Linked DNA regions of Homo sapiens. The protein of the gene in region 1 interacts with the protein of each later gene in a pairwise test. Each region holds a gene or a part of one and is shown on either strand. Other genes may lie near its edges. The genes, in order: EXOC3 and GMCL1.

Evidence for each region.
Region 2: the proteins of EXOC3 (region 1) and GMCL1 interact in binary tests that used the Homo sapiens proteins (3 or more experiments, as listed by UniProt).

The regions. Positions count from the first base shown.
Region 1 is NC_000005.10:452,952-456,772, forward strand, and holds part of EXOC3 (exocyst complex component 3), read left to right. Parts: intron 1-418; coding exon 419-1,100; intron 1,101-3,821. UniProt on the Homo sapiens protein: Component of the exocyst complex involved in the docking of exocytic vesicles with fusion sites on the plasma membrane.
Region 2 is NC_000002.12:69,839,419-69,843,239, forward strand, and holds part of GMCL1 (germ cell-less protein-like 1), read left to right. Parts: intron 1-38; coding exon 39-135; intron 136-1,523; coding exon 1,524-1,621; intron 1,622-2,064; exon of another isoform or gene 2,065-2,134; intron 2,135-3,669; exon of another isoform or gene 3,670-3,697; coding exon of another isoform or gene 3,698-3,730; coding exon 3,731-3,821. UniProt on the Homo sapiens protein: Possible function in spermatogenesis. Enhances the degradation of MDM2 and increases the amount of p53 probably by modulating the nucleocytoplasmic transport.

The DNA.
Region 1 (3,821 bases):
AGTGGCCACTTACCTCTTCGCACCTCTGTGGTCAGAAGCAGCAGTCAGTGATCTGAGTACAGATCTCCGGTGTGGAGGACAGGGTTCTTTTTGCCCAGCCAGGCTGCAGGCTGTGTGCAGGCAGCTTTAGGAACACATCAGCACATGCACAGCTGCCTGCGGGGTGGGAGGTGGGGCCTCGGTAGCCACTGCCCAGCTGAGAGCTGCAAATGACCACAGTTAACCACAGTTTACCATTTATGCCTTTAATAGACTCCAGAGTTCCAAAGATAGTTACCTCAGACACATCCTGCCATTGCAGTTGTTGTTAGCTAGGGAGATGTGGCTTCCTGCTCTGCCGTGTTCCCAGAACACCGCATGCAGGCAGCCTTTTATGTGGTGGTGGTTGTTTATGTTGTGTCTTGTGCCTTCTCCCTAGTGCCTGAGATTGTGAGGGAGACCCAGGACCTAATTGAACAAGGGGCACTCCTGCAAGCCCACCGGAAGCTGATGGACCTGGAGTGCTCCCGGGACGGGCTGATGTACGAGCAGTACCGCATGGACAGTGGGAACACGCGTGACATGACCCTCATCCATGGCTACTTTGGCAGCACGCAGGGGCTCTCTGATGAGCTGGCTAAGCAGCTGTGGATGGTGCTGCAGAGGTCACTGGTCACTGTCCGCCGTGACCCCACCTTGCTGGTCTCAGTTGTCAGGATCATTGAAAGGGAAGAGAAAATTGACAGGCGCATACTTGACCGGAAAAAGCAAACTGGCTTTGTTCCTCCTGGGAGGCCCAAGAATTGGAAGGAGAAAATGTTCACCATCTTGGAGAGGACTGTGACCACCAGAATTGAGGGCACACAGGCAGATACCAGAGAGTCTGACAAGATGTGGCTTGTCCGCCACCTGGAAATTATAAGGAAGTACGTCCTGGATGACCTCATTGTCGCCAAAAACCTGATGGTTCAGTGCTTTCCTCCCCACTATGAGATCTTTAAGAACCTCCTGAACATGTACCACCAAGCCCTGAGCACGCGGATGCAGGACCTCGCATCGGAAGACCTGGAAGCCAATGAGATCGTGAGCCTCTTGACGTGGGTCTTAAACACCTACACAAGGTAAAGCTAACCTGGCGCCTGTGTTGGCTCTTAGGTAGAAGCCGTGTGTGAGAGGGGCCTGCAGCTGCTTGCTGGAGAGCCGACCTCAGGGTGTTGCTCTGGGCAGGTGCTCCGAGCCCACAGCCTTGGTTTCCAGCCCAGGGGTGTCTTCTTTCTGCTCTGCCTGCTGGTGCCCAGCCTCTGGTGTTTGAACACTGTTGTGCTTGGGAGGGATCTCTGCTCTTGGCCTCCAGCCCCCGTTGAGCTTGACAGGGTGCAGCTCTGGGCTGGGCCTGTTTCCTGTGCTCACCGTGTGCTGACTTGCTTCCTTGCAGTGACACCCTGAGGCAGGTGTGTTGTTACCCCATTTTACAGGTGAGGACACATGGTCCCAGGCGGGGCTGGGACTGGCACATGGCCACCCCACTGGGGAGGAGACCACTACATCACCTCCCTGGCTTCCAGCATCCCGGGTTTGGTTTCTCTTCACCAATATCCTATAGCAGTGAGTCTTTCAAAAATAAACAGTTACAAGTCTAGATAGTTCGAGGAAACTCCATCATCCTTTTTGTATCCTAGTACGAGGTTTTGTCACTTCACTTAAGGGACCATGAACCACTCTGTGCGTGGATTAATTTGAAGTAGTGTTGAAAAATGGTGCAGTGGTGGGGGTATTCTGAAATTCTTTAAGATTAGGTAGCCGAAATGAAAATTTATTTCAATTTTCCATGGTTTCATGGTTAGAAAATAATATTAAGTAATGTATTGGAATTTCTTCTTCTTCTTTTTTTTCTTCCGCCCATCTTGTCACTGCAGTGGAGAAATTGAATAAACCTCATTTTTTTTTTTTTTTTTTTTAGCAGTAAGGCATATTTTTTTGTGTGCTTTGTTTACTGGTATCTGCTTATAGAGAATTTGCATTTCAATACAGAAGGACAGAAGAGAAAGGAAGCGCCCCCTGCAGAGAATGGTCACCGTGACGCTCTGTGCAATGGTGGCTCTCTGTGCAACCGTGGCGCTCTGTGCAACTGTGGCTCTCTGTGCACAGCCCTGGACTCACCTCCCCTGGCTGCCGCTCATCCTCATGGCCGCCCATTCTGTAGCCTTGACAGTGCAGGTCTCCCCCTCCGTGCCTGGTGTGTGTCAGCAGCCCATGAGGCAGGAGGCAGGGGACACGGCCAGTGAGTGGGAAGCTGGATTCCAGTCCCATCCCTGGGCCCTCCCGGGCCATGGCCACTAGGCTGGGCTGTGCATGTGTGCACCTTGCACAGTTTGTGTCTTGATTTTGTCTTTCCACGTTGTGAGTGTTTTTCTGTCCTTGGGGAGTCTCGTGAGTTCCATCACCCCGGCCTTTCTCAGGGGAGGTTGAAGTGCTCCACTAGAAACATTCTCACACGGAATTGAGGTTCTTGGGAAAAATAATCCAGATTAAATAAAAGTCTTTTAAAATGTGCAGAATTTTAGGAAGTACTTTTTCACTTAGGAAGCTCTCGGATTTCTTATAGTGGACTGGCTCTTAATCATTTTATTCAGTGTTACTCTGAGAACGTATTTACGGAACATAGCATGAGGCGTGTGAGTTGAAAGAATTTTCTGAGTGGTCAAACCTTAGACTTAAAAAAACTTTTTAATTTTAATTTTTGTGGGTACATAGTAGGTGTATCCCGGCTTCACGCCATTCTCCTGCCTCAGCCTCCCGAGTACCTGGGACTACAGGCGCGTGCCACCATGCCCCGCTAATTTTTTTGTATTTTTAATAGAGATGGGGTTTCACTGTGTTAGCCAGGATGGTCTCAATCTCCTGACCTCATGATCCGCCCGTCTCGGCTTCCCAAAGTGCTGGGATTACAGGCGTGAGCCACCATGCCCGGCTGATAATAACTTTCTAATGAAAACTTTTCCTGAAATGTAGCATGTGTTTCCTGTCTTCTGGACAGTAGACCTCACGTAGTTTTGCCTGTTCTTGCGGATGCGTTTTTATCAGTAATGTCCTGTATTGTACGTTCCAGTCATCACCGTCTGCAGAGCATATTGATGTGGACTGCAGTGGCTTGTTTCCAAAGGACAGCACAGCTGCCCCTCCATACTCAATGGGGAGGGATTCCAGGACCCCCCTTGGCTATCAAAATCCTCCGTAGCCCAAGTCCCCTTTATAAAAGGGTATAGTGTTTGCACGTAACCTGCGTACATTCTCCTTCATGCTCTAAATCATTTCTAGATTACTTATAAGACTAAATACAATGTGAATGCTATGGAAATAGTTGTTCTATATTTTTTGAAATTTTTATTATTTTTTATTGTTGTTTTTCCCAAATACTTTCAGTTTGTGTTTGGTTGAGTCAGTGGACGTGGCGCCCGTGGCTGTGGGGGCGGCTGTGCTTGTCGTTTTGACTGAGTACGTTTGTTTATTCAGCGCCTCCTGTTTGCCAGGCCCTGCCTCGGCTCTGCAGGTGCAGTGAATAGAACACACGTCTTCCCCACAGGAAAGGCTCTTCCACATTTGAGCCCCAGCACCTCATGAAGCTGGCGCAGCAGGGTGAAGCTGGGGTTGGAGGGACTCAAGTGGTCTCGGAGCCAGTGGGTGATGCCACAGAGACCCCAAAGCCCTCGGCCCCTGCCCTGCACTTTCCCCGGTTGGAGGGACTCACGCAGTCTGGGAGCCAGTGGGGTGATGCCACAGAGACCCCAAAGCCCTCGGCCCCTGCCCTGCACTTTCCCCTGAGCTGTGGGCCGGCTGTGACC
Region 2 (3,821 bases), on another chromosome or scaffold:
AAGTACTTGATAATCGTTGACTTTTTTTTTTGTTTAAGTCTGGCTACTTTTCTAGTATGTTCAGTGGTTCTTGGAAAGAATCCAGCATGAATATTATTGAACTGGAGATTCCTGACCAGAACATTGATGTAGAAGGTAACTACCACAATAATTACTATTATGCAACAATCGTAAAAACATAATCTTATTCTTCTGGTAGAAGATAAATAATTCCTTCCAGCCTTGTAGTCTAGAAAACTCCTTTTATCACCTCAAGGTGATAATTTGATGTTGATTTACACCATAGTTTATCAGTTCTGTCCATCTTATCACTAATCTGTTTTGTCATTTGGGCCTTATCAGTTTGTTTACTTATCTTTGTAAATATGCCCACCTGGGATATGGAAGATGTAGGATGGAGGAAGGAAAAGTATGACCATTTTTTTTTTTAATTACATAGAAAATCTGATAAATAATACTGATTATTCCCTATGTATGAAGATGTTTTCTGGGAACAATAAATAAAAATATTGTTTTAGAGCTAAAAGAATCCTTAGTTGAGGAAGCTGAGGCTCAGAGGAGTTAAGGGACTTATTTTGGATCTCAGAGCAGTTTAGTGAGCCTGTGTCAGACTACAGCTCTCCTCATTCCCATTCCAGTGCTCTTGCTGCTCCCCTCATTGGTGGTCCACATGGAAGTACCTGGTGCGATACAAAGGCAAAGAAATACTTTAGTTAAGAATATTTACAGCCTGTAATCCCAGCACGTTGGGAGGCCAAGGTGGGTGGATCACAAGGTCAGGAGATCGAGACCATCCTGGCTAACATGGTGAACCCCATCTCTACTTAAAAAAATACAAAAAATTAGCCAAGCGTGGTGGCAGGCACCTGTAGTCCCAGCTATTTGGGAGGCTGAGGCAGGAGAATGGCGTGAACCCGGGAGGCAGAGCTTGCAGTGAGCCGAGATCGCGCCACTGCACTCCAGCCTGGGCGACAGAGCGAGACTCCATCTCAAAAAAAAAAAAAAGAATATTTACAAAGCAAACCATGTGGGACATTCATAACAGTGGCAGTGGAGGAAGGATGAACAGGCATAGATCACTGTGGGGGCTGGGAATGAGTGTGGCATGGACAGGACTCAGGAGCTGTACCACATTTCTCAGTGGTGGAGTGCTGAAAGCAGCCGGGTTAAGATTATCTTTGAGTCTGCGTATTTGTACTTAACGATTGGTCTACTGAGGAGTATCTTATACAACTTCTTGCAAGGCATCTTGGTTGTGACCACTGATGTCAAGATTACATGTTAGAAGAATGCAGCTAGATTTGGTAGAATAAACAGAAATTTATAACCTTGTTATTAAATTAACAGTGTCAACCAGTAACCATTACTAGCGTTTTAATTAGAGATACTTCTGTTATCCTTTTATGTGCATGCCACATTTAGACGGATGTCTTTGTGTGTGAAGACAGTCGTTGTTGTTATTTGTATAACACTTGTAATAGATATAAATATTATTTCATCCTACATGTGTACCTTGCTTTCAGCACTGCAGGTTGCATTTGGTTCACTGTATCGAGATGATGTCTTGATAAAGCCCAGTCGAGTTGTTGCCATTTTGGCAGCAGCTTGTTTGCTGCAGTTGGTAAGTATGCACGTTATTCGAAGAAAGGTTCAGAATAATAATCTTTGTCTCAAAGTGTGTACTCCAAAAACAAAAATAAAGCTTAGCTTTTTTGGAGTTTTTAAATAAAAATGAAATGTATAAATATGACATTTATTATAAATCATTTAAAATGCCTAACCAAAAGCAATTTATTACAACCGAGGGAGTCATGATGTCTGCATAAAATGAATGCAGGCCATTTCTGTGTAGATATCTTAGTATGACTATAATGTGGAAAAAACGTACTTGTCTAAGGTCATTTACAGATTTCATTAATGACTTGACTATTAAGCAGATGGCTTATGATTACCAATTAATTTCATTCATGGGTTCAAATAAACATGCATGCCTACTATTTAAATTTCTCTTAATTTTGAAAGAATTGTGTATAAATCACATATATGTATTTTAATCTACTGGCAGAATGACAGATTTGTTCATTGAAGAGAAGTGTGTTGAGCACTGTGTCAAACTAGACACAGAAAGCCAAAGGTAACTTAAGACGTAATCCTTACTTTCAAAAAGTTCACAACATAGTATGTATGTGTGGAGAGGGGAGGGAGGGTTGATATACAAACCCAAAGGTAAAGTAAGAGCTGTTCAATATTATAGGTATGATAATAAACATCCTGTAGCATTTAGTGAATGGATAAAGAAGGGAGTGGTCAGTTCATCCTGGTGGTGTCACATACGAAAGTTACATTTTCACACAGAGTCTTGAAAGTGTGTTTGTATTGCAAAGTAAGAAGAGGGGAAGGAAGAGCATTTCAGACAGAGAGAACAGAGTAAACTAAGATCTAGTGATGTGAAATAATGGAGGATTCAAGACTCTAACAGAAACATGGCTCCCACATAAACATAAGAAGGATTGCAGAAGAGGGGGGCAGAAGCCAGATCATGAAAATACATCTATACATTGCTAAGAAGTTTAGCATACACAGTACCTTTGGAATATTTTAATCAGGGGAAAGACGAAGTTATGTTTTAGAAAGAATACTTCAGTAACAATGTGACAGATGAATTGAAGGAAAGATGAGTACAGCATTAGAGACAAAAACTTGTTGCATTCGTCCAAGGGAGGAAAGTAGGGTAGTAGCAATAAGCTTGGAGGGGAAAAAGTGGATACCAGAGAGATTCAGGGATAATCCACTGGACTTGGTGATAGACTAAATGTTAAGAGGAAAGGGGAGGAGTCTAGAATGATTTCCAGGTAAGTTTAAAATCCTAATGGAGTCAATGTTTTATTTTAATCTTAAAAAATTGTTTACTTTTATGTGGTATTTTTGTACTGATTTATTTGAAGTATTAATAGCTTGCTAAATATCCTTGGTTGAGATCATTTGATTTTCAAAATGTTTTGATCCTTTCAATACTTACTTCCAATAAGTATACTTTATTATCTAACTCTGGTCCTTTTGGTTTTGTTCTAAATTCACCTTCTGCTTACTTTTATGATTTACTAACTCTTTAACTTAATATACCTGCATGATGAATGTATTTCAGAAATTTGAATGAAAAGTAGTATTCTTCCCATATATTAAAGTTAGTTCACTTAAAACCTATATAAACATTTTAGGTTAAAACTTTAATGTTAATCATTTGAAATAATAATATACTTGTTTTAAGTCTATCTCTTAGATATTGTAGTTATTTTAAACTTGATCACTTTCTGCTAATGCATACTGTTAGTTTAGTCCCATCACATGGTTAACTGACTATGTAGACTTCTTAATTTAAAAAGAAATGGCAAAACAGACAAAATGCTGCTAAAGAAATTTGCAAAGGTCTCAGACAGGGGAAGAATAGAAAAGAAAAAGAATAGCAGTATTCATTCTCTACCTTACTACTCCCCCCCACCTTCCATTTTCAAATTCCAAGTATTTAGTTGAATACTTGCTGAACTTTTTTCAGTATTTTTATTGGACTTGTTAAAAAAAAAAAAAAAAACTTAGGTTTGCTGCACTTAATGAGTTTTCTTTCTTTTCTTTCTTCTTTTTTTTTTTCTTTTACTTTTTAATATGTAAAAGCTGTCAGAGCTAATTTTTCCCACGTGAAATGGGCCTTTCCAGTGCTTATTTATATTTACAGGACGGTTTAATACAGCAGTGTGGTGAGACAATGAAGGAAACAGTTAATGTGAAAACTGTATGTGGCTATTACACATCAGCAGGGACCTATG